2 separate regions of the Homo sapiens genome follow, and region 1 is linked to region 2. Evidence: fine-mapped expression QTL. Tissue or cell type: skeletal muscle. Region 2 holds a variant in brackets; the other region holds the start of a gene. All regions are shown on one strand. Distances are between the middles of the regions. Region 1 holds the start of NAXD (NAD(P)HX dehydratase). Region 2 overlaps NAXD (NAD(P)HX dehydratase).

Evidence for each region. PIP is the estimated chance that this variant, and not a neighbour inherited with it, causes the effect.
Region 1: it holds the start of NAXD, and the variant in region 2 is fine-mapped to the expression of NAXD in skeletal muscle (GTEx, PIP above 0.99).

The regions. Positions count from the first base shown.
Region 1 is chr13:110,608,215-110,624,562 of GRCh38, reverse strand. NAXD (NAD(P)HX dehydratase) reads right to left here and starts at 9,018. Exons shown (of 10, transcript NM_001242882.2): 1 at 8,916-9,018; 2 at 2,197-2,347; 3 at 284-329. The coding sequence starts at 8,961. NAXD-AS1 (NAXD antisense RNA 1) reads left to right here and starts at 8,210. Exons shown (of 1, transcript NR_182301.1): 1 at 8,210-11,481. RefSeq lists enhancers at 7,989-8,038, 8,059-8,108, 9,010-9,937, 13,249-13,749, 13,750-14,250 and silencers at 8,389-8,548, 8,559-8,808.
Region 2 is chr13:110,632,711-110,643,168 of GRCh38, reverse strand. NAXD (NAD(P)HX dehydratase) reads right to left here. Exons shown (of 10, transcript NM_001242882.2): 6 at 8,574-8,624; 7 at 8,393-8,497; 8 at 7,581-7,701; 9 at 5,920-6,040; 10 at 3,173-4,791. The coding sequence ends at 4,641. It overlaps CARS2 (cysteinyl-tRNA synthetase 2, mitochondrial), which reads left to right. Exons shown (of 15, transcript NM_024537.4): 14 at 648-854; 15 at 1,561-1,752. The coding sequence ends at 1,632. Among named protein-coding and RNA genes, the nearest start is that of NAXD-AS1, 22 kb to the right of the region's middle. RefSeq lists enhancers at 5,629-6,457, 7,288-8,116, 8,117-8,946, 9,941-10,458. The variant C/T (reference allele first, on the strand shown) is at 4,324.

The DNA.
Region 1 (16,348 bases), 22 kb after region 2:
CGCTTGAACCCAGGCGGCGGAGGTTGCTGTGAGCCGAGATCCCGCCATTGCACTCCAGCCTGGGCAAAAAGAGCGAAACTCTGTCTCAAAAAAAAATGAGCTTCAACTGAAGTGATCTTGTTTATGCACAGATGTCAGGATAGACTTAACGGTGTTTCTATTAGCTATGATTACCCTAAGATATTATTTAGATTTCTATCAGAAAACATTTGCTTTAATCATATTTAAATAATCAAACTCTCTACCAGAAAAATCCCAATAAAGAAATTTTAAGTAAACATACCACTTTGAGAGCTGAGATTGCTGCAAAATATGGGGCTCCAGTGTACCTAAAAAGAAGGTATTTAGAGTCAAAAACTTCTGAGAATAAGGTAAGCATACCTTGATCAATAAATAGGTTATCAATAAAAAATAGACATAAATAATATAGACATGGTTTATCAATAAATAACAGAGACATGAAGCACACAGCACAAACCCAACACCTAAAAGATGCTCAGCAAATGTTCAATGAACATGAACCAGGTTCGACTAGAAATGTCTTTTTTTTTTTTTTTTTTGAGACAGAGTTTCACTCTTGTTGCCCAGGCTGGAGTGCAATGGCACGATCTTGGCTCATTGCAACCTCCGCCTCCTGGGTTCAAGCGATTCTCCTGCCTCAGCCTCCTGAGTAGCTGGGATTACAGGCATGCGCCACCACACCCGGCTAATTTTGTAGTTTTAGTAGGGACAGGGTTTCTGCATGTTGGTCAGGCTGGTCTCAAACTCCCAACCTCAGGTGATCCGCCCGCCTCGGCCTCTCAAAATGCTAAGATGACGGGCATGAGCCACCGCGCCCAGCCAGAAATGTCGATCTTTTACATAAAACCTTCATGCATTTCAGGAGAGTGAATCTCTGGCAGTAATGCCTGCAGTCTCCCTGCAATGTGAATGTTCAAGGTAAGGAGCTGACCGCAGGCTTCTGCCTGGAGAGAAGAAAGTGACAACCACATGTTCGGAGCAGTCGGGCATGGACAGGGTCCCAGAGTGGGCAGACCCCGTCCTCCAAGAGTCACAGTCAGCAGAGGCCAGATGGGGGCCACCTGGGACAAACAAGAAACGGCACCCACCACCCAGCTGCTTCCGCCTGGCTGTTCTGGAATCCCTGGCTCTCCAGGTCTAAGGGCACTTCAGGCACAGAAAGGAAGAGCCCTGCCCTCCGTCAGATGGGCAAATGCAACCTTTATGTCCATTCCGAGCAGTGAAATGTTTTGCTAACCCAAGAAAGAGAGACCTGGGCAAATGCTGATACCCATCACCTTACATGGCCTTCTCCTGCAAAGCGGTGTCAATAGCGTTGTAAATGCAAAAGACAGTACAGAACAGGCAACATACATGCACACACTCTTCCATCATGTGAAAACAAGCCTCACTAATAAGAGAAATGCATTAAAACAACAAGAAAGCTTGTCGACTTCACTAGCAAAGGTTGTCCTCCAAGGGCTGCAGGGAACAGGTGCTCTTGGGAGGCAACACACACTAACGCAATGGGGGGACAATTCGGCAGCGTCACCAGCATGTAAAATGCACACATACCTGATCCAGTAACAACTCTAACACACCCTATGGCACGATCAACAGCTGCAAATGGAGGGATGGGCAAAGAGAGATACCACATCCATGCAAACAGAAAGCAAGCAGAAACAGAGGAGCCACGGCAGGCTTTCCGTCAGAGGCAGAAGGTATCCTTCACACCCAAGGACAACTTACAAACAGCTACGTACCAAACACAGCAGCAAAACAGAACAGAAGCAAGCTAGGGATTTGTCAAATTTCATAAATGACTTTCAGTAACATCTTTAAATTGACAAAGTAAACCAAGAGGTTGCTGAGTGTTTCTATCCTAAATACAAAAAACATGCTTGTGGTATGAAGTCCAGTTAAATACAGAAAAGCAGAAAGTGGAAAAAACAGGCTCATTTCCCCACTACGACAAAACTTAACACTGACACACATGAGGGAGTAATTCAGTCAGGGCTCCTCAGAGTTATTTCCTAGTTAATCAAAAAGTGGATCACTGAAAAATACTGAGTGTCCTATCAGGCTGCATTTGGAAATGATTACTGAGGTCAAACTAGACAGCGTGAATGACAGTCAGGTAAGCAGCCAGCCAGCAACTGACTTTTTAAACACCAACACTGCACATCAGCTACTTACTCCTGACAGCCTCCAACTACGCCTATTCTTCCATCTTGCCCTTTGTGCTTTGTGGAAGACAGAGGAGGTATGATATTTCTCACCAGCTGCAAAGTATTTTCCATATCCTTTATCGAATGTGCTTTACGTAGCGAAAACGCTCTTTCTAAAACTGAAAGACAAGAAAAATGAATAATTCAGAAAGGTAAACAGATATTGTTAGTACACATAATAGCCCATTAACCAAAACCCTCTCCAAAGTTATTACGAATGCTATAGATTTTTACCCAATGGATTTCTGTAAGCAAATATGATGTTCAAAATTACATTAACACATGCAATTTTTTTTTTCTTTTTTGAGACGAACTCTGACTCTGTCACCCAGGCTGGAGTGCAGTGGCGTGATCTCAGCTCACTGCAACCTCTGCCTCCCAGGTTCAAGCAATTCTCCTGCCTCAGCCTCCTGAGCAGCTGGGATTATAGGTGTCTACTACCACACCTGGCTAATTTTTGTATTTTCAGTAGAGATAGGGTTTCATCATGTTGGCCATGCTGGTCTAGAACTCCTGACCTCAAGTGATCTGCCAGCTGCAGCCTCTCAAAGTGCTGGGATTACAGGCGTGAACCACCATGCCCAGCCTGAACACATGTAATTAACACATATAGTAACACATGCTATTTATTTATTTATTTGAGACAGAGTCTAGCTCTGTCACCCAAGCTGGAGTGCAGTGGCACGATCCTGCTCACTGCAACCTCCACCTCCTGGGTTCAAGCGATTCTCCTGCCTCAGCCTCCGGAGTATCTGGGATTACAGGCACCTGCCACCCTGCCCTGCTAATTTTTGTATTCTTAGTAGAGACAGGGTTTCACCATGTTGGCCAGGCTGGTCTCCAACTCCTTACCTCAAGTGATCTGCCCGCCTCAGCCTCCCAAAGTGCTGGGATTACAGGCATGAGCCACCCCACCAGGACAACATATGCTATTTCTATCAGGTTTATTTTTGAAATGTATCTGAAATTTTGGAAGACCATTTAATTTTCCAGAAAGTTTTATCAAGTAAAAAAATGCATTATTACTTAATAAACTATCACTTCATTTCAATTTCCCTTTAGGATTATTAGGTCTTTTCTCTCCTCACAAACTGGAAAGCAAGCTCCCACCTGTAATCCGCTGGGGTGCTCAGAAGTCTGACAGATTCATCATATTACTCCCAACTGTATTCCAACACTCAACTGGGTATTAATTAAATAACCTAGAAATGGCATTCTAAATATGGCACACCTCTTAAATTGGGTTCAAAGTGGCATTTAATGTATTTTCATCATCTTGAGTTGTCTCTAAACAGCTACACTTCAATTGGCCTTTCTTGAAGAGCTTCCTGTGTTATATATTTTACCTTAATATTTAAAACAGCTCGGCTATGAGAGAAATGCTGGTATGTTCTATAGAGCTCAATGAATAAAGCATACATTCTCCCTAGAATGAAAGGATCTTTGCAAATATAAACAGTATTTTTTCAAACAAGGCACTCAATATTTTTATCCTTCCAATTATCTCAGCAGCAGAGAAAAACCAGTGTCACAAGTTCCACTGACTGCAGTCCAAAGCTCACTGAGCGTTTCACAGCAAAAGAGCTTTGTCTTTTAACTCTTACAGTTTTACTTTTTACTCAACAAAACTTTTGAAGGAATTTTCTTTATGAGTAGATGTAACTGCCTTAGCTGATAGAGCAGATGCTGGGATTCCCCAAGATAAAAAGATCCTATGAATCCCCATCAACCCAAATTCTTTTTTTTTTTTTTTTTTGAGACAGAGTCTCACTCTGTCGCCAGGCTGGAGTGCAGTGGTACAATCTCGGCTCACTGCAACCTACGACCCCCTGGTCCAAGCAATTCTCCTGCGTCAGCCTCCTGAGTAGCTGGGACTACAGGCGCATGCCACCACGCCCAGCTAATTTTTGTATTTTTAGCAGAGACGGGGTTTCACCATGTTGGCCAGGGTGGTCTCGATCTCCTGACCTTGTGATCTGCCCACCTCGGCCTCCCAAAGTGCTAGGATTACAGGTGTGAGCCACCGCGCTCAGCCCAACCCCAAATCTTTTCACCTTCTTCCAGACCAACACACAAGACCCGGCACAGAATCACTATAAACTGTGGGCCAAGGAGAGACACAATGAAGCTTGCTGAGCTACCTGCAGGGGACCAATGCACCCATCCTTGAAATCCCTCCAGGAGGGCTAAATTATGGTTTTAAAACAATACACTTGTCTAGAAGAGACATTTATGGGGCCAGGCGCAGTGGCTCCCCGCTGTAATCTCAGCACTTTGGGAGGCCAAGGTGGGTGGATCACTTGAGGTCAGGAGTTCGAGACCAGCCTGGCCAACATAGTGAAACCCCATCTCTACTAAAAATACAAAAATTAGTTGGGCACGGTGGTGCATGCCTGTAATTCCAGCTACTCGGGAGGCTGAGGCAGAAGAACTGTTTGAACCCAGAAGGTGGAGGCTGCAGTGAGCCAAGATTATGCCACTGCACTCCAGCCTGGGTGACACAGCGAGACTCTTGTCTCAAAAAAAAAGACATTTATGGGTATCGATCAGCATCCTGTCTTTGTCGTGGGGAGCTGTTCTATGCACTGAAGGATGCTGAGCAGCATCCCCGGCTTCTACCCAGTCAGCAGTGCATGTACACGCACCCAGTGGTGACAACCAGCAATATCTCAACACTCCCAAATGTCTTCTGGATGGGGCAAAATGAGCCTGGGTTAAGAACCACTAGTAGAGATGCATGCGTGTAGTTTTAGCACCTTTAAATATACCAGTACTTCAAATTAAATATTTAAGGTCATATAAAATATAAATTGTGACTTATGAAATCACAGAGAAAAACAATTTAGTCAGACTTCAACTTACGGATGTTAAAAATCAACATTTATATCAATGTACCCTGCCTGATGAAAACAACTCCTAAATGGTAATACTTCATAAATGTGTATTTCTCACAATAAGAAAAGGAATAAAATGGTTCCACCAGATAATACTGTATATTTTCCAGGAGGCTTCTTTCTCCCAATATCCAAGATTCATATCTTACAAACATCTGTATCTTAAATTTCAGATTTAAGTCTTAAAAAAAGTACTATAGGTGAGGTATGAAATATTTAATGTTTATATCAAAAAGGGCAAATACCATAAACCCACACTGAACTACCCATTTGCACTTTGCCTCATAGTTGAAATAACCTATACATTACCGGAAAGGATCTGACACAAAATTAAGCTGCAGCCACGAGTCCAGGTGGAGCACCTGTCAGGTGGAGGGGAGCACCAATGCCCCTCTGCAACCAGTGTCGCCCAGCACTCCCAGGAGGGCACAGCAGGGCCGCCTCGGGGTCACAACTGCAGCACCAGAGCTCCCAGGGATGCTGTGTTCCAAGTGCTTGTCCTCTCCGCATCTGCTCCCCAGAGCGGAAAAGCTTCCCTTCTGCGTCACACTCTGCTGAAAGTCCTCCCAGTACTTTTGGTACTGGGATAGCACCTTTCTGATCTTTTTGGTTGAGAAAGAGGAGATATGCTAGTCCAGGCAAGGATACGCTTAAAACCTACAGGCTTTAAAGCTAATACTGATTTTTGTTGTTATTCAAATAATGACAAGAACACATACAATTTTTCCTGCACTTCAAGGTAAGCTTTGTTAAAATGATAAGATATCAGGGGGCTCAAACATCGAATACAATATACGAATAAGGGCCACTTTCTAAGGCGGATTTTTCTACAGCAGGTTAAGCATTAAAGTCCCATTTACCACAAGCCAAAAATATCAATTCTGAGTGTGTAAAACCCACTGCATTCACACGGCAATCTTTATCATAGCTAGGAAGAAAACACGGGGGGAATCCTGTTCTGAGCTATTCCTTTATCTTATACAGAAGGTAGTGTTTTGAAGCCCAAAATGTGCAAACCACCTTCACAGCAACTTGATCAACCCACCAGCGGGAGTCGCCTCCTCCTGCTCCTGTTCCGTTGTGAAATCTTAAGACTTTGTGAGATTCCCAGTTCCCTGGCCATGATGCTACCGTAAGGGCTGGGTCTAAGAACCCTGGAGAACAAGAAGCGCCATCCAGAAACTGAATATTTCAAGATTTACACATGAGAACAACGGCTCTCAAATGGAAGCTAGCTTAAAATTATGTTAAACTCATAATATAATTAATAGTAACTTTTTTGCTACATAATTTTAAAAATTCAAAGTGATACCAAAAGTAACTATTATTACATGTGGGGTTCTGAAACCTTTCGAGCACACAGACAACCTACATGGTAGGGGCTGACCTGGACATAAGAAGGAAGTTCTTATGTCTGGACTGGCAGAGAATCAGCACCCTACTACTGCCTGCCCACGAGGAATGTGGCACCATCCGCAAGCTGCAGCACTGACTGCTTCCATGTGGGACTCAATCACCTCGAACACAGCCTGGCACAGAACAAGACACTTGATACATGTTCGATGAAGTCAAGACATCGTGATTCACTCTCCTCACTAGCACTTTATCTTTCTTTTACAGATAAGGAAACTGGGGCCCAGAGAGAAACCTGTGCAGATGCTGTGGTTAGTAATGGACAAGCCAGGCCACAAGACACTATTTTACCAAAGTGCTGCCATGTTTTTGTTTTTATTTTTGTGGGCACACAGTAGGTGTAAAATGCTGCCATTTTAAGGCAAAATAAGAAGTATAGCATTTTCACTTGAATAGAATTGTATTAACACAAAGTAAAATCCAGGCTGCTCACCAGCATTCACCTAAGATAAACAGCTTCTGTTAGCAAAAGGGCCAAAGCAGGTCAACTAAACTTCCCAGCACTTGGCAGTGAAGCAAGTTCCAGCTGGCTTACTGACGTCACCATTTGAACTTAACATTTCAAATGTTAACACAGAAACATTTACATATAAAGATCAAAGTTCTGAAGGATAAAAAGGCCTTGACAATAGGCGACTTAAGATGTATCCCATTCGGTAACTCTTCAGACAATTCTGAGTCTGGAAGAACAGGTTAAATTTGTTTGGCTTTTGTTTTAAGGAAGCGTGTCTGGGGAAGACTATCACTGCTGCTTTGTGCTAAAAGTGCTTTTAGTACTGGAAAATTCTACTTAAAAAAACAAAAATACTTTAAGTTAATGTGAGTTATAACTAATTTAGAGCATTTAACCACAATCCCTAAGTTAACTGAAATATTTCCTAAAGCCTCAGTAATATACAACTCTACCTGGCTTTTCGTAAAAGTTTAGGCAGTCTGATAATAAATCCTCAACCAAGCGCAATGAAAAATCTTGCTACTAATCACGGTGTGTGAATTTAAGGTAAAGAGCTACAAATAAATCTCTAAATAAAGTGTTAAGAAGCCTCCCTGCTGGTGTGAGTGAGGTGCAGTGTAGAGTACCCTCTCAGCGCCACCCAGTGCATTCTCAGTGTGTGCTGATGAAAACAAAAAGCCAAACTCTCTGACGATGCCCAACATACACACAAGGTAAAATCTATCTAATGACTACAGCAACAAATGGTGCGTTTAACCATTTCGGCCACTCACTGGCTGGAGAATCCTGGCTAAGTCACTTTCTCTGAGCTTCTATTTATCTTCTATACCAAGGTGGATAACAGCAATCTCTCCTTATGAGAAATGAGATATACACGAACTACTTCCTGTATAAAATATGTTAGATACACCAATACCAACAAGGCAAACAGAAAGACAAAAAAACCCTATGAAGAGATGGGGCTCCAAGCACTTGCTCAGCTCCTGTTTAAATTCTTTCTACCTTATCCGTTCTATTTGAAAAGGCATCTCAGCGTGCAAGGACCAGCCAAGGCCAGGGCAGGGCCCTCGGGGACATCTGGCCAGCACTTCAGGTTCTGGGGATGACTCAGGTGAGCCTCCCTCCCCAAGGGACCTCCTACACGCACACACACACCCCGAACCGGGGGCGGGCGAAGGAGGCCTGGCTGGTGGAGTCCTTTTCTGCGGCCCAGGCGTCGCAATATCCAGTCCCTCTCGTCCAAGGACGTGCAGGGTCTGTACTTGCCCAGTCGCACTGGGACTTCAAATTGGGGATGCAGACACGGCCCTGCTCCTGGTGTGCGCGAAGCCCGCTCAGCCGGCCAGCTCGCCTGCACGCCCGCCGCGTCCCTGGGCCCCAGGAGGGCCCCCGTATCCAGCTCCGACCAAACAGCAAGCCCGCAGTTGGCGAGCATCTTTCCCAGACCGGGAGCGGGGACAGAGCAGAGCAGACGGATCCGACCAGCGCACCACGGCGCCCCAGGGCCCTCCTACCGTCCTCGGCCCTCGGCCCCCCGTTCCCCGGCCACCGCGCGGGCTCCGCCGCTCCTGGGACGCGCACTGGCTCCGGCCCGGCGCCACCCTCTGCCCCTCTGTCACCCCGCACGGAGGCTCCCATCACCCAAGCCGCGCCCAGCCGTCGCCGCGCCGTTCCAGGAGGCCTCCGTCCTCTCCCTACTCCGCCCCGCAGGCCACACGGCGCCCCGGCCCCGCGCGCGGGCTGCCCCTCGGCGGCGCTTCCCCCCCGCGAGCCAGCAGAGGCGGTCAGCGGTCGGGTACCTGCGTCCAGTGGCGGCCCGTACAGCGCGAGTGCGGCCGAGAGCAATGCGACAACGACCGCGCCGGCGACGGCAGTTCCGGCCCCCGCGCGTGTGACCATCCCCGGGCCAAATGGAATCGACCTTACCTCGTCTGCAAGCCCGGATTGCCCCACAGCGAGGACCCAGGGCCATCGGGCAGCATTCCGGATTCCCAGCTGCCCCCGCGCCGTCGCCGGAAACACAGCCATTGGAAGCGTTTTCCGGTTTCCCGACCGCCTCCGCGCGGCTGTCGGCAGTGGGATCCCAACTCGCTCAATCACACCCGGTTCTAGATGATTGACAAGCGCGACGCCCAACCCGGCCTGGTCCCAGCTCTGGCCTAAGAGGTTCGGCTGGAAGGCAGGTTGAAGAGTTAACAACGATCTGGTTCAGGGTCTGGTTTGTGTTTATCGGCCCATTTTTAGGCTTGCGGCGTTATAGAAAATGATTTTGCTGGCAGGTGGAGTGCCGAGGCCCACTATGTGCCCCCAGTATAGCAGTCAGGTGCCTTTCTGCTCCAGGCGCAACCTCTGCCCTGAACCCCAAACCAGCTCGCTGCGAGGCCCCTTCGCTTTCCACCGTCTCAGGTCAGGGCAGCTCCATCACTCCAACGCTGAGGCCCAAACCCCTGGAAGGCATTCTGACCTCTCCTGCCCTCCCACCCACGCTCCTCCTGTGGCTGATGGCCTCTTACCTCCACTGCCGCCCTATTTGAAGCCACCGTCATGGTGCTAAAAGAAACTTGTGGGGCCAGGTGCGGTGGCTCGCGCGTGTGATCCCAATGCTTTGGGAGGCCAAGATGGAAGGATCGTTTGAGCCCAGGAGTTTGAGACCAGCCTGGACAACATAAGGAGACCCCCTTCTCTACCAAAATTTTTTTGGAAAATTAGCAGGGGATGGTGTGGCACACCTGTAGTCCAGCTACTTGAGAGGCTGAGGTGAAAGGATGGCTCAACATGTCAGAGGCCTTTTAACCAGAGCGATTCCATCTTGAATAGGGACTGGGTAAAATGAGGGTGAGACCTACTGGGCTGCATTCCCAGGGGGTTAGACATTCTTGGCCACAGGATGAGGTGGTGGGCACAAGATACAGGTCACAAAGACCGCACTGATAAGATGACACAGTAAAGAAACTGGCCCAAAGCCTACCAAAACCAAGATGGCCACAAAAGTGACCTCTGTGTCCTCATTGCTCATTATTTGCTGATTATAACGTATTAGCATGCTAAAGGACACTCCTACCAGCGCCATGAGAGTTTACAAATGCTATGGCAACATCAGGAAATTACTCTATATGGTCTAAAAAGGGGAGGAACCCTCAGTTCCAGCAATTGCCAACCTCTTTCCCAGAAAACTCATGAATAATCCCCTCCTTATTTAGCCTATAATCAAGAGATAACTATAACTATGTGTGGAGTTAGTTCCTGCCGGTGGGTTCATGGTCTCACTGACTTCAAGAATGAAGCTGCGGACCTTCACAGTGTTACAGCTCTTAAAGGTGGCATAGACCCAAAGAGTGAGCAGCAGCAAGATTTATTATGAAGAGGCCGGGCGTGGTGGCTCATGCCTGTAAGCCCAGCACTTTGGGAGGCCGAGGCGGGTGGATCACAAGGTCAGGAGATCGAGACCATCTTGGCTAACACGGTGAAACCCTGTCTCTACTAAAAATACAAAAAATTAGCCGGACATGGTGGCGGGCGCCTGTAATCCCAGCTACCCAGGAGGCTGAGGCAGGAGAATGGCGTGAACCTGGGAGGCAGAGCTTCCAGTGAGCCGAGATCGGGCCACTGCACTCCAGCCTGGGCCACAGAGCGAGACTCCACCTCAAAAAAAAAAAAAAAAAGATTCATTATGAAGAGCAAAAGAACAAAGCTTCCACAGCATGGAAGGGGACCCAAGTGGATTGCTGCTGCTGGCTGGCGGGGGTGGGGGGGTGGGGCAGCTTTTATTCCCTTATTTCTCCCCTCCCATGTTCTGTTTCTGCCCTATCGGAATGCCCTTTTTTCAATCTTTCCTGCAATTGGCTACTTTTAGGATCCTGCTGATTGGTGCGTTTTACAGAGCACTGATTGGTGCATTTTACAATCCTCTTGCTAGCTACAGAGCGCTCATTGGTGCATTTTACAATCCTAGCTACAGAGTGCTGATTGGTGCATTTTACAATCCTCTTGTAAGACAGAAAAGTTCTCCAAGTCCCCACTCGACCCAGGAAGTCCAGCTGGCTTCAAGTCTCATAAGTATATTCAGTCAAGCAGCCAGTGCCACTGCTCTGCCTATGGAGTAGCCATTCTTTTATTCCCTTTCTTAATAAGTTTGCTTTCAATTTATGGACTCGCCCAGAATTCTTTCTTGCACAAGGTCCAAGAACCCTCTTGAGGTCTGGATTGGAACCCCTTTCTGATAACAGAGTGAAACCCTGAACTACACCTACCAGACCAAACCAGTAAGGAGTTTAACTACAGTAACTGAGCTTTACTTCATGGCAGGAAACTCTGTAACCAGTTAAGCAATGAAGTTATAATCAAATTAGCTGTCTCCATCACACACTTCTGTTTCCTATAGGTGCTGTCAGATCAGGTTCCTGATTGGAGTTCTCTTATCTGCTCTGGTTTGGAGGGCTGCCCCATTCGGGAATCTGTTTTGTTTTGCTCAAATACACTCAGTTAAAACATACACGTGTCTAAGGTTTTTCCATTTAACAGTGTGTGGCCTGGATGATGGCAATAGTCTGCTGCATGAGTGTCAATGAAAAGAGTCAAACTCTAAAATATTCGAGATTTATTCTGATCCAAAGATGAGTGACCATGGCTTGTAACATAGCCCCTGCAGATCCTGAGAACATGTGCCCAGGGTAGTCGGGCTAAGCTTGGTTTTATACATGGTAGGGATACGGAAGACATCAATCAGTACATGTAAGAAGTACGTTGGTTCAGCCCAGAAAGGTGGGACAACTCCAAGAGAGGAGCTTCCAGTCATAGGTGGATTCAAAGATTTTCTGATTGGCAATTGGTAGAAAGTTTACTTAAAGACTTGGAATCAGTAGAAGGAAGTGTCTGGGTTAAGATAAGGGGTTGTGCAGATGAGGCCTCCAGGTAGCAGGCTTCAAAGAGAATGAATTGTAGATGTTTCTTTTTGTTGTTGTTGTTGTTTGAGACAGAGTCTCACTCTGTTGCCCAGGCTGGAGTCCAATGGCACAATCTTGGCCCACTGCAACCTCTGCCCCCCAGGTTCAAGCGATCCACCCTACTCAGCCTCCCAAGTAGCTGGAACTACAGGCGTGCACCACCACACCCGGCCAATTTTTGTATTTTTAGTAAAGACAGGGTTTCACTGTGTTGGCCAGGCTGGTCTCCAACTCCTGACCTCAAGTGATCCTCTGCCTTAGACTCCCAAAGTGCTGGCATTACAGGTGTGGCCCACCTCACCTGGACTTTGTAAATGTTTCTTATCAAACTTCAGGTGCCGGACTCTTAGTAAATTATCTCCTGGATCAAGAAAAAGACCTGGAAAAGGAAGGGGAGTCTCCTCAGAATGTAGATGTTTTTCCCCAAAGAGACAGTTTTGCAAGGCTATTTCAAAATATGCCAAATGAATATATTTGGGGTAAAATACTCCAGTTTCTTTCAGGGCTTGCAATCTGTCACATTGGTATCTTATTGCTACAAAAATTCTGCTTTGTCAGTCTTAAGGTCTCTGTTTTAACGTTAATGCTGGTCAACTGTGCCTGAATTCCAAAGGGAGGAGGGTATAATGAGGCATCCATCCCCCCTTTCCATCTCGGCCTGAACGAGTGTTTCAGGTTTACTGTAAAATGCCCTTGGCACCCTCCCCAGCCTCTGCCTCTGTCATCACATGATGGTCTCCTTGTCCTCACGTGGGATTTTCCTCTCCTTTAAGGACACCAGTCATATTGGAGTAGGGCCCACCCTAATGATCTCATCTCATCTTAATTCAATAATCTATAAAGACCTCACTTCCAGTTACGGTTATAGTCACAGGTACTAGGGGTTAGGATTTAACATATTCTGAGGAGACACAACTCAACCCATAATACCTTCTGTTAATAAATTAACCTCCCTGCTTTCCTACAGCAATAGAATGATCTTTCCTATAAGTCAGATCATGTCACTCCTCTGCATAGAACCATCCAACTGTTTTCCATGACACTCAGATTAAAATTAAGGTGCATTCCATCACTCTCCGACCCCTATGTGATTGGCGCCCCCAATCACCTACAGCTGTCGGAGGTCTCCGGAGGGTCTCTGGATGCCACTGAGACCCCAGCCCCAGCCAGTTTCCAAGTTCTTGACACCAGCATGAGAAAGAATTCAGGGACACGTCAGAATGAAACGAAAGGCAAGAAGCTTTTACTGCAAAGCGAAAGCACACACGTAAAAGAGAATTGCGGGCGTGCTCAGCAGAGTGAGTCACATCAGAGTTTGAGTTTCTAATTTTATGGATTTTTTTTTAATTAGGGGGTGGAATAATCATAAGGTATTCTGGAAAAGGAGTGATTTCAGGGACTCCCTCCCCCCATTACCACAGACTTTTACCCTTATTCAAGTTTTCCCAGGATCATGGACATATCACCCTGACCAGGATTTGACCATTTTCTCTTCCTTATTTTGGGTTTTCTGTTAACCTGCGGTTTCTTTGCCTCGTTCTTATTCTAGCTGTTGTTTGGGTTTTTCCATCCTCCTGTGACCACCCAGTGCTATTCCCATTTCATTTTCCCCCTTGGAGATTTCCATCCCTTCTTCTTTTATTTATTTTCTTTCTTTCTTTTTTTGAGACAGGGTCTCACTCTGTTACCCAGGCTGGGATGCAGTGGCATAATCATGGCTCACTGCAGCCTCCCCTTCCCAGGCTCCAGCGATCCTCAGACTTCAGCTTCCTGAGTATCTGGGACCACAGGTGTGTGCTACCACGCCCGGCTAATTTTTGTATTTTTGGTAGAGATGGGTTTTTGCCATGTTGTGCAGGGTGGTCTCAAACTCTTGAGCTCAAGCGATCTGCCTACCTTGGCCTCCCAAAGTGCTGGGATTACAGGCATGAGCCACCTACCGTGCTCAGCCATTCCATCCCTTATTCTTGAGGGAGATGAGGGAGGAGGTCAGTCTTCCGTGTCATCTTCCTGCTGATTTAAGAGCACTGGCCCTGCCTACCGAGGGCATGGGAATCTCCAGCTGCTTGATCTAAGGGTCCCCAGGGGACAGCAGGAGCGTCTGATTCCAAGACAGGAAGCAGCTGGAACCCTAGCTTGAAGATCACCTTTACCTAGATCTGCTGTAACCAGAGACAGGCACTTTACAAGCAAGTTGAATATGCATGGGCCAAATATTAACGATGAGCTCACCCTTAACGGGCCCAAAAGTGGTAAAAACCAGGTACTAGAAGGTACAGCAGCTTTAACAGCATCCCACATAAAATCAGCAGGAGGGTTTTTCTTTTCGAGGGTGCAAAGGCATTTTGCCTGGTCATTTGTGCCTGAATTCCAAGGCATGGGGGAAAGTGGAGTGAGGCGTGTCTGACCCCCAGCTTTCCATCATGGCCTGAACTAGTTTTTCAGGTTTTTTTTTTTTTTTTAATTGGATCCCCTTTGGGCAAGAGGCGTGTCCATTCTACTAGGGAGGATGCAGATTTTTTTTAGTTTATAGTCCGCTTTTTGTAAAGGTATGCCAGAGGCAGTGTCAATGGCCAAGCTTTTATTTTGTCCCATATTGATGCCGGGGGGGGGGGGGGGGGGGGGGGGTGCTACCTGTGCCAGGTCTATCATGTCCCTCAGTGGGACCCCTACGGCTAAGGGACTTAGAGTCAAAAGACTTATAACCAATTAATTATTCTAAGCCAAATGGAATGGAAGTGCGCAGGCACTCATTAACCTTCGAATCTCTTTTAAGCAACATAAGAACCAAAAACCAAAAGCCAAAAGACAAGGTAACATAATTGACTTATTTATAAATTATGTGCATTGAGCCACCATAATCTGGTTTGTAGCAATTAGCTATACAAAACACAAGCATTTTGTTAAGCTGCTGAGGCATCTCTGTGACCATTAATGACTGAATCCATTAATTCAGTTGGAGGATCTGAATTAATTTTATTCCTCAGAATTGGCCCTTACAATCTTATGCTGGGCCTGGAGGGATTGTATAGTTCAAATTCTGGAGGCACAACAAACGCAAGGAGCTAAAAACATTTTAAACAAAAAGGTCACAAGCCCTGCCTAGTTTTGCAAATGATAGAAAAAAAATTAAACCTTTAAATTATTTAGTATCTAGGCATAGAATAAATATTACATTATTTCAAATAAAGGCAAAATTATTAAATGAACCTTTTTTTTTGAGACGGAGTCTCGCTCTGTCGCCCAGGCTGGAGTGCAGTGGCGCGATCTCGGCTCACTGCAAGCTCCGCCTCCCGGGTTCACGCCATTCTCCTGCCTCAGCCTCCCGAGTAGCGCCCGCCACCACGCCCGGCTAATTTTTTGTATTTTTAGTAGAGACGGGGTTTCACCTTGTTAGCCAGGATGGTCTCGATCTCCTGACCTCGTGGATCCACCCACCTCGGCCTCCCAAAGTGCTGGGATTACAGGCGTGAGCCACTGCGCCCAGCCTAAATGAACCTTAATGTATTTGAATACAGGCCTGTCCCTGTGTTTCATGAAAGCAGTTTACTTTGAGTGTCACCTTTGCCCAGGTCTAAAGATGAGGCTTTGGTCATCTTGAGTTTGGTGTCAGTTTCTGGTAGGAGTCAGTGCGTTCTTCAGATGCGACATGTGTACCCAGGAGTCAAGGCCCTGCAACTTAACAGCACGAAAATTAGTTAATAGACCCCGATAAGGACTCCCTCAAGGGGCTAAGGGAGTTCTTCAGCTGATTTGCTTCCAGTAAATGTAATTATCAGGCCAGAGGTGGTGATAGTGGAGTTCATGGTCTGACTGGAAGCTGTAAAAATGTTCACAGCCGGACGAGGTGGCTCGCGCCTGTAATCCCAGCACTTTGGGAGGCCGAGGCGGACGGATCTCTAGGTCAGGAGTTCGAGACCAGCCCGGCCAACATGGTGAAACCCCGTCTCTACTAAAAATACAAAAAATTAGCTGGAACGTGGTGGCACGTGTCTGTAATCCCAGCTACTCGGGAGGCTGAGGCAGGAGAATCACTTGAACCCGGGAGCCGGAGGTTGCAATGAGCCGGGATCTCGCCATTGCACTCCAGGCTGGGTGACAGGGCGAGACTCCGTCTCAAAAAAAAAAAAAAGTTCTACAACCTTGCAGCAATTAATTTTTATAGATTTAATAAGCCCCAGCAATAAGACACCTCAGAGACTTAATTTAGGATTTTGATTTTGAGGACGTTTATTAAAGATGTTAAAAGGCTCAAAACATCTGATCCAAACAGAAGCACAGGTCATTGTAAAATAATAGTTACTTACTTAACAAAAGTGATAATCAAAAGACTTTAAAGGCAATACAGAAGGTAATACGGATGTAAAAACCTTGACCCTTTTACATTTCAGATTTTGCAATCAAAAACCTAATAAA
Region 2 (10,458 bases):
TTCTGTAATAACAAAAACTGTCTTTTATCATGGAAGCAATAACTGAGGGGTGTGTGAGGTTTAAGTAGTTTGACACCAAGGTCAAATGTTGTGTCTGTTTCTTATTTTACACACATGGATTTAACAAATAGGTACAGCTGCCCCTTCCACACCGCCCCAGGATCTGTTCTCAGTGGGAGGACAGCGCGAGGCCTTCTGCGCAAATCCCGTCCTCAGCACCTGAGGCTGTGAATCTCAGACCATTTGCCGAAACACACGTGTGCAAGCGCTCAGTCGCTGCCCCCCAGCCTCATCCTCAGGTTGCTCCTGATACCTCGGCCACAATTGCGTGAGGTCTGGAAGCCAGGGAGCGTTTGTGTTCAGGGCGGGGCGGCATGCAGCCCCCAGCCCTTTCTTCCAACTCCCGAGTGAGGATCACTCAGCCTTGCTTGGACGACAGATGCTCAGAGTTGAGTGGAGCCTTGCCCAGAGCCCAGCGCTCGCGGGCTGTACCCATCCCTGCCAGACCCAGAAAGAGGCCCAGCTGCAGGGAATCAGGGAAGCCCAGGGCTGGGTGGGTGTCGGCCCAGAGCCCAACCACGGGGTGGGGAGGGGGCATCCACAATCCACAGTCTCCGGGGGACGTAACCGCGCCCTGCTGGCTTCAGTACGTTTCAGGAGACGGCAGCGAGGCTACCTTGCATGGTGTGGTGGACGAGCTGGTGCGGTTCCGGCAGAAGGTCCGGCAGTTTGCGCTGGCCATGCCCGAGGCCACGGGGGACGCCCGGCGGCAGCAGCTCCTAGAAAGGCAGCCCCTGCTGGAAGCATGCGACACCCTGCGCCGGGGCCTGACTGCCCACGGCATCAACATCAAGGTGAGTGCCGCACCAAGGTCAGGGACATCACCCCAGGAGCCGGGTAGGTCAACAGGACGTGGGGCCATCAGAGGCCCAGACATCCCCCGTGACCATGCTTTTTTTTTGAGACGGAGTTTCACTCTTGTCACCCAGGCTGGAGTGCAATGGCGTGATCTCGGCTCACCACAACCTCTGCCTCTGCCTCCCAGGTTCAAGCGATTCTCCTGCCTCAGCCTCCTGAGTAGCTAGGATTACAGGCATGCACTCCCATGCTCGGCTGATTTTTTATTTTTAGTAGAGACAGGTTTTCTCCACGTGGGTCAGGCTGGTCTCAAACTCCCGACCTCAGGTGATCCTCCCACCTCAGCCTCCCAAAGTGCCAGGATTACAGGCGTGAGCCACTGCGCCCTGCCCATGCTTCTGAGTAGAGAAACCCACCCCCATAAAAAATGAGGTGGGAGGGCCGTGAGGGAGGGGCCAAGTTGGCTGCAGGGGACGCTGAGCACGGGGACGTGGGTCCTGCTCAGCCCCCGCCACCTCCTGCAGGTGCCTTGAAGCTCCTGGCCTTCTGCTGGAGGTAGTGGGGCCCTTTCTAAGCGCCTGGCAAGCTTTTTAGGACAGGCCGGTGAGGGAACAGGCACCCTGAACCTGATTACGCCTGTCAGCCCCCTGTGCCACATGACGTGGTGTCTGCTCAGAGTTGGACCTCACTCTTCTTCTCCAGGACAGAAGCAGTACAACATCCACGTGGGAACTGCTGGATCAAAGGACAAAAGACCAAAAATCAGCGGGCTGAGGATGGAGCACAGCCATGAACCTGCTCACGACAAGACGCACCCATGCTTCTCAGGGTCAAGGCTTTATGTTAAAGCTTCCTGTCGGGGCTGCTAGGTCAGCATTAAAGTAAGGCAACCAACAGTGTCCCACTGGCGTCTGTTTGTTAGTAACTGAGCCTAAACACTCACTGCGTTCTGTGGCTACAGACTCACCGTCGATTGAGTGAAGTAGTGTCAGACATTCAGTAGCATCCAGCAGCACACGTGCCTGTGCGTGAGACCTGCTGGCCCTGTGCCCAGGGAACAGACAACACAGCCAACAGAAGAGCAGGGACCCCGGGAGGCGGCAGAATGCAGCCTGTTTCCTCCTGAGGGAGGGGCTGGGGATGGGTGAGGTGGGTGGGCCACGCAGCATAGTCTGAAGCAGAGGTGGGACGCCAGCAATGCTAACCCCGGGACACCTCCCCCAGCAAGAACACAATCTTACGTTTTCTCTCTGGTTACAAAAGTAACGTATTCAGCATAGGAAAAATGCAGCTGAGAACCCGTCTGCAGTCCCGCTGCAGTTAACATCCTGGCAGCTGCAGGCCATCTTGGTGGTCATGGTCTGTGCAGAGCAGTGATGGGGTCGAGCTGGGCCTGGGAAAGGTTGGTTCCGGAGGAGTCAGGGCAGCCAGGCTGAAAGCCAGCTGGCGAGCTGTGACAGACAGGATTCCTGAGCGGGAGGTGGCGGCCAGCACACGGCAGGCTGCCTGGGCTACAGGACCGGTGGCCTCCTGAAGCACCCACCTTGCTCCTGATCTCACCCTTCTGTGGTAAGCCCAGCGCCACAGCTGTCAGTGACTCAGCAGGGTGACCCCTCTCCACTCTTCCTGCTCGCAGACCCTGGGCCAGGCCTCTCCCTGTCACACTGGCATCTCTGAATCCCAAGGGCACAGGCAGCAGCGGGACCCGTGACTGGGGATACGGGCTTGCTCATCATTTAACCGTGACCCTGAGGTACAGGTCTCCTGTCTACAGTTCAGAAGTCACTCACCTAGAAAATCACCCTAGTAAAGCTACCCACATAGAAAAAGTCCCCAGAGGGCTCCTTACAATGAGGCATCTCGACAGGGCTGCTCAGTACTGGGGCATTACGGGCCGCCCACCCCCCCACACTTTCCCGTTGCTCTCCTGGTCCAGGGAAGCTCCTGGGAGCGTGTCCGGCTGGAGCGAGTGCGTGAAATACGTGGGTTTGAGAAAGAACATGGAAGCAATGAGCTGCTTGTAAAAAAACCCATTCTCTCCTTTAAGCAAAGGGATGTTTTACTTAGAACAAAAACCAGACGAATAGTTCCTGTGACTGCTGAATTCTATTTCCTAAGGAAAGAAGGGGCTGCCTTGGGCTTATCCTTCAAGGTGCTTTATTGCAGCCACCACGGGAGAGGCGCTGGCGAGGAGGCCAATCTCACACAGACAGGCTTAGATATTCTTATCTCCCTGGCATCTCACACAATGTCCTCACCTAAGAAAGTTGAAAGGTGAGCTTTAGCTGTTTAAGGAAAAAAATACAATACTCAATTTAAATTAACCAGATCTGTCTTTTAATAGTTACCAGAATTTAGATGTTAATTCCCCAGAGGAAAAATGTCCATGGCACAGTTTTTCTGGAAAAGTTCACATGTAGACAGTGAAGCTTCTGAAGTTAGGCGTCAAATTAGTAGTGACAATCTTTTTTTTAATCTTGAAAGTCCCTAGTTTTAAAGAAAGTAGAATCCATCTGGGGCATGTCTGCATCACAGGGTATCACTCAAGAGTCATCATCAGGCCAAAAAGACTCTGAAGGGAACCAGGAGGGTTTGGCCCTTGCTGTGGAAAGATGCTACTGAAAGTATAAGAGAACACCCTAATGCACGCGTCAGGCACGAAACCGTACCATGCCCCGCTAAGACATGGGACCAGAGAACACGTCAACGTCAGGCCGCTCCAGGAAAACCATCCACAAAGACAACAGAAGCTAACCCGAGGTCGACACTGCCATGAAGAGTGTTGGCTGAAACCGCAGTTACCAGTGTCTTTACTGGACGCGAACATCCCTAAGGACACGGCTGTGCTGCTTCCTAAGCATACGTGACCACGATACTGTCTTTCCCCGGGTCTCCTTAGCGCCATCACTGCACCAGGCCCAGCATGCCTCAAGTCCTCCAGAGCCTTCTCCTGAGACAGCACTAGGGGCCACGTCAGACCCCAGGCTGCAGCCCTTCACCGTGCCCGTCCCCGGTCCGGTCTGCCCTGCTGGGGCCGGTGGGTATCATGGGGACCCCTGTGTAGACACGGACACCGGAGAGCGTGGGACAGGAGGCGTCTCAGAGCTCCCCACCCACACACTCAAGGGTCAGCGTCACTCATGTTTCCTTCTGTTCCCATGGTGCCTCCAAAAGGGTTTCCAAACAAAGTCATCATTGATTACCCTGGAGTATGTCAATAAGCCAAACACCAGCAGCCAGATACCACCAAGCTAGTCACCACTTTAAAAGAAGATGAGCTGGAGAACGAAGCAGCCCTCTGATGGACCCAGTCAGTGCAGTCGGGACTCAGGGAGACACCCGGGGACCCCTGCCCAGCTCCCTGCCGGAGGAAAGACTAGGGAAGGGAAGCAGAGGAGGAACGAAGGGCGCCGGCAGAGAGAGTAACAAGTAGAAACTTCGCCGATCTGGGAGCAGGCCGAGAAA[C/T]TCTGTTGAGCTGCTAAAGAATTCTTCATTCTCATGTGATTTTCTTCATTTCTGTCTTCCCAGTTACTACCAAGGAGCTAAGGAAAGTTCAGGAATACTTTGTTTAGTGTCGCCATAACATCTCCAACCATGCATTAAGTTTAACCAAAAGCTGCAATATTCCAGATTCTTAAATTCTCAATGGCAACCAATTTATGCTCAAGTTGAAAATCTGGCAAGCACCGTACGCCTTCAGCACACGCGTGGGTCCGGATTTTCCCATCACACACACGCTCTCCCCCGTCCAAGGTGCCTGTTTACTTCTGGTCTGCGCGGGCTCAGGTTTCAAAGAGCTTGCTGAAGGCGGCCCCCACCTCGGCGATCATGTCGGAGGTGGTGGTGGAGCGACCGTGCTTCTGGAAGGCTTGGTGGTTGCACTGCCTGGTGAGAGAGCAGGCGCCAAACGCGGCCACCAGGAGAGGGCTGGACCTGCGGAGAGGGGGACAGCAGGAGGTGTGGGGAAGTGGGCGTCGTGGTCCGGGGGCCGCAGCTACCCTGGGCTCTGGTTTTGACTCCTGTTTCAATCTCAGGACCCCAAATTGTCAATTTCAAGTCTGATATGCCCCTGAGGAGAAAGCAGGTTTATCACAGCGAAAACCACCATTAACCCTCCACTACTCCCTGGCAGGAGGCACACAGGAAACGTCTATGTACTCGGAGACAGGTCCAGGGCTAGGGCACACAGTGGGCCAGGTGTTCCCGGGGAAAGCCAGGCGGCACAAGCTGCTTAGCCCTGTTTGACTGTGCTCTCAGTGCCCAGGTGCAGAGGGCATCTGAGGTCTGAGAATGGGGATTCCTGCTACCAGGGCTCCATCTCCTGGGGGAGGGGTGGAGGCAACTCGAGTGAACACAGCAGAATGAACAGTAAGACTCCTGCCCACACCCCTACCTCCTCGGCTCTCAAATTCATGTGGACACACCTAGTTTGGGGGATGGTCCCAGACTCTGCCATCCCGGCAATGAGGACACATGAGGCCACTGGATGACAGCCCTGCCCACCCTCCAGAAGCCCGGGTCTGCCACACCTAGCACCTGCAGCCACCACCTTGATGGGCTCACAGAAGAGAAATGGAGATGCTTAGAGGTATGGGAACTGCTTGCATTCATAAAGTTCTCTGACTACAGAACTGGGCCAAGGGCCCTGGTCCTAGAATTCTGCTGTCTCTTAAAGAAAATTCACATCTTTAAGAACAAGTGTCTAAGTAAGCCTTGACCCTGTCTGTTTTCTATCTTAGTATTCTGTGTTACACAGAATAAACCACTCAACTTCCCAGAACAGCGTGCTGCTGGGCCTTGGTTGCACCTCGGAACTCTCTGGAGAGCTCTGAAGACCACCCCTGCCCCAGGCCCCATCCACAGTGAATGATGGACAGGCCCAGGCCCAAGTGTGGGGTGGAAGCTTCTGCCAAGAGGGTTCGTCTGTGCCGAGATCTCTCCAGTGAAGCCTAGAGTTCATTGTCAGTGTTTCCAGGGCTACTTATTCAACGCATGAGCTACTGAAACAGCTTAGAAAAATCAGACGGTTTCAAAGTAGAATAAATGAAGACGTGGCCTTACCCATTTGTTTTCTGTGGTCCAGCAAGGAGCGCCCAGTGTACCAGGACGCCCAGGGAGCCCGACAGGAGGTCCCCTTGCCCTCCACACCTGCGGCTGCTGCCTTCCTGGCTGCACACAAGCACTGCACAGGGCAGAAGTGAGAGCAGGTGTCAGCATGGCCATGTGTGTGAATGTGACAGTAGCCACGGGTGTGGAAGGCCGCACGGCAGGCAGAGCCACACCCTCCAGGAGCAGCCTGAGGCTCCACTCACATCCTGCCTGCTACGGCTCTTCCCTGTTTGTTCCAAGGGTTGGAGGCAGCCTCTGTTTTACAGAAGAGGAAACCAAGACACGCAGTGGTGAGGCTGCCCCAGACCCCGCTGTGTAGCACAGCAGGTTGGTGGAGACACCTGCAGCTCGGAACCGCCTCAGACGAGCCCAAGCAGGCAGCTCTGAGCAGGGCGGCGCCAGCCTCCAGCTCCTCCCACCAGCTCCCAGGGACGGAGCCCTCACCTGCAGCCCACACTCCAGAGTTCACCTTAAACCACAGCTCAACCATACAGGGCAACACCGAGCGAGGCCTCCACCGGCCTCATAACGTCACGTATGCCTGTGTATGGGAATTCTCTATTTCTTTGAAAAATGTTTTGAAAACCAGGTGTTACATTCTCTGAACCTGTTAGACCCAAGAGAGCCTTCCAGTGATTAAAAAACCCTCATCTCAAAGGTGTCAGAGTCCCTCTGAGAACATCTGCTCTGTGTTCCTTGTGCACAGCTGTGTGTGGATGAGTGTGCGAGGGCGTGTGCGAGGCTGTGAGCATGACCATGCATGTGTATAAGTGCGAGTGTGCAAGGGCGTGCGAGGCTGTGAGCACAACTGTGCATGTGTATGAATTGCATGCGTGTGCACATATGTGCATGTGAATGTGAGTGTACAAGTGTGGATGTGCACACACCCGCCCACAGACGCCTCAGTGTTCTACCCTGATTTTGGTACCTAGTCCAGCCCCACAGCTCAGCAGGTGAGCACATTCGCTGCCCATCATCTGTCCAGGCCTGAATGGAGGGGCTTCCATTTTCAGCGCTAACAAGGGCACGGCTCCCCAGATGCCTCGCTGGCGCTGGGCCCGGCCTCTGCCCTGCTCTCACTTGGCTCTTGCTGAAGCCTCCCCAGGCTCCGTGGGAGTGGCCAGTTGAGACTCGCCACACTCAGTGCCTGAGATTCCACTACCAGCATCAGCTTCGGGGCTTTCTGCACTTTCCAGTCATTTTGATAAAAGAGAATGAAATGCAATAAAATACCCAAATAACTGCATGGATGGTGGATGCCACAGGTGAGATGAAGGTGGCAGCTGGAGACGCGGGACCCTGCACTGTGCCCTGCTGTTGCAGGCACCCTCCCGCCAGACTGCTTCTCATAACTGAGGCAAGGGAATTCAACCAACGGGTAAGGCCCACGGCTCGAAAGCCTGCCCTCACCACTGTCACCTCCCCTGGCAAAACAGTGAAAAGTCAAAACATGGACTCTGAAGAAAGTGTGGTTGACGAGCTCATCAGGAATCCCTGTGTGAATGTGTGTGAACACGGGTGTGCACGGGAGAGGTCTTCCAGGGCTCATGCTCGGTGTGGCCATGCTGACTGACCTGGCACTGGCCCATGCACAGAGGGCAGCCGCCACTCACCCTGCTGGCCGTTGGAGAGGATGTCGCGCTCTCCTTTCTGGACCACCGTCACGTTGCCCAGGGCTTGGCTGAGTCTTAGCACAGATCCATGGCTGTCATCGCTGTCCATAGGGCCTCTGAGCTATGACAACACAGGAAGACAGAGAAAAAGCAAAGTCTTCCTCAGACACACGACGACAGATAGCCCTGTCCCATCCGCCATGAGACTCATGCTCTCGTGTCTAAAGGGATCACCCAGGCACCTGTTAAAGGCCATGTAGGTGGGAGGATGCCCAGGATATCACCTGCAGTGAGTCCTCCGAGCAGGTGCTGACACGGTGCCTGCTCCAGTGCCCATCCTCTACCTCATCAGAGCAGGCTGAAGGAGGACCACCCAAGACTGGGTTCTGAGAGCTTTGCAGGAGTAATACAAATTCCAGTCGTACTGGGCACTAACATTGATGGGACACTTACCATGTGGGGACTCACGGCTTTACATAGGTTTCCTCATCTCATCCTCACAACCCCGTGAAGCTGATGCCATCATCACATTACAGATGAGGCACTCAGGACACAGACAAAGTGACCTGTCCAGAGTGCACTGCAGGAGGGGCTGACTGACCCGAGTCCCTGCCTGTCCCAAGCCCACTACACCATCGTTCATCCAATCCAAGCGCATTAATGGGAAGACGCGCCATCCGCTGGGAGAGGCACAGCGATTACTTGCAGGTGTGTCCACAGGGACAGGCTGGGCAGAAGCATGGAGCTCGTCCTTCACCCTCTTCAGGACGAACAGGGCTTGCATCTACCCTCCAGGGGGTCCACTGACTCACCACAGCGTCATACAGTCTGCTGAACTCCACGTGGTTGGGAGTGAGCACAGCCTTCCGGTAGCCATGGATGAGGGCCGGCTGCTGAGCGACCAGCCACAGGCCATCCTGCACAGAACAAGGAGCCGTGCTCACTGCACAGGCCTTCCGGGAGTCCGAGCCAGGAGGAGAGAAGTCAACTCACCGCGTCGATGACAACAGGGATGTCCCTGGCCTTTGACACTTCCAAAATGCCCTGCCAGAAGAGAAAACCAGACTGAGCACCATGCCTGCTGCTATGGTGTGGGTATGTGTCTTCTCAAAACTCATGGTGAAACTTAATTGCCAAGGGAAGGGTCCTGGGAGGTGGGGCCTTTAAAAGGTGATGTGGCAGTGTCCTCATGGGTTGGTTTAATGACCTTTAAAAGAGGCATAAGGGTCTCTCTCCTGCCCTTCTGCCCTCGCCAGATGCCGGCACCTTGATGTTGGACATCCACCTTCAGAACTGTGAGCCAGTAAACGCCTGTTCATTATCAATTACCCAGTCTGTGGTACGGCTACAGCAGCGCAAAACCGACTAAGACACTTTTCCCAAGAGTGACAGAAAATTGAGCAGACTCTTAATAAAATGCAACATCAGGCCATCAAACAATAAATGGAAAATAATCAAGTAAATGAATAAAATAGAGAAGCAGAAAGACCCAATGAACTCGCAGAGCCCGTAAACAAGGCAGGACACTGGGAACTCTGAAAGGCGAAGCCCACTGGAAACGCTATGAACAACAGCTGGGCTCCTAGGCTAACCCATGAAGACAGCCCCCGCCCCAGCAAGGGCATCCAGTTCTCCAACAGATACTAATACGCAGCATTCGGAGGCAGGAAATCTGAATTCCTGAGAATTCCCCAAATCATTAGTCATTATGTATTTTTCATATCACTTTACTTACACGTTTTAAAATAACAACAATAATAAACAGGGAATCATTTTTCCCTGATAGGATTACAGTGAAGGTTTCAAAGGTTTTCTATTAAAAAAAAAAAACTACATGTATAGATACACACACATATATGTAATATTTGGTGGTTTTTATTATTATGAGCCAATACATTGTGACAAGATTATACACTGCAGTAGCATGTAAAGTGATCCTGACTTGACAGACACCTGATAATACAAAACATTAAAATAGAAAACATTAAACAAAATGAGAGGTGACAGCATGCTGGCAGTCCTCAGAGCCCTCGCTTGCTCTCAGCACCTCCTCTGCCTGGGCTCCCACTTTGGCGGCATTTGAGGAGCCCTTCAGCCCACCACTGCACTGTGGGAGCCCCTTTCTGGGCTGGCCAAGGCTGGAGCCCACTCCCTCAGCTTGCAGGGAGGTGTGGAGGGAGAGGCGCGAGCGGGAACTGGGGCTGCCTGCAGCGCTTGCGGGCCAGCTGGAGTTCCGGGTGGGCGTGGGCTTGGCGGGCCCCGCACTCGGAGCAGCCGGCCAGCCCTGCTGGCCCGGGGCAATGAGGGACTTAGCACCCGGGCCAGCGGCTGCAGAGGGTGTACTGGGTCCTGCAGCAGTGCCAGCCCACCGGCACTGTGCTCAATTTCTCACCGGGCCTTAGCTGCCTTCCCGCCGGGCAGGGCTCGGGACCTGCAGCCCGCCATGCCTGAGCCTCCCACCCCCTCCATGGGCTCCTGTGCGGCCCGAGCCTCCCCGACGAGCACCACCCCCTGCTCCACGGCACCCAGTCCCATCGACCACCCAAGGGCTGAGGAATGCGAACGCACGGCGCAGGACTGGCAGGCAGCTCCACCTGCAGCCCTGGTGCGGGATCCACTGGGTGAAGCCAGCTGGGCTCCTGAGTCTGGTGGGGATGTGGAGAGTCTTTATATCTAGCTCAGGGATTGTAAACACACCAATCAGCACCCTGTGTCTAGCTCAGGGTTTGTGAGTGCACCAATCAGCACCCTGTGTTTAGCTCAGGGTTTGTGAATGCACCAATCGACACTCTGTATCTAGCTGCTCTGGTGGGGCCTTGGAGAACCTTTATGTCTAGGTCAGGGATTGTAAATACACCAATCGGCACTCTGTATCTAG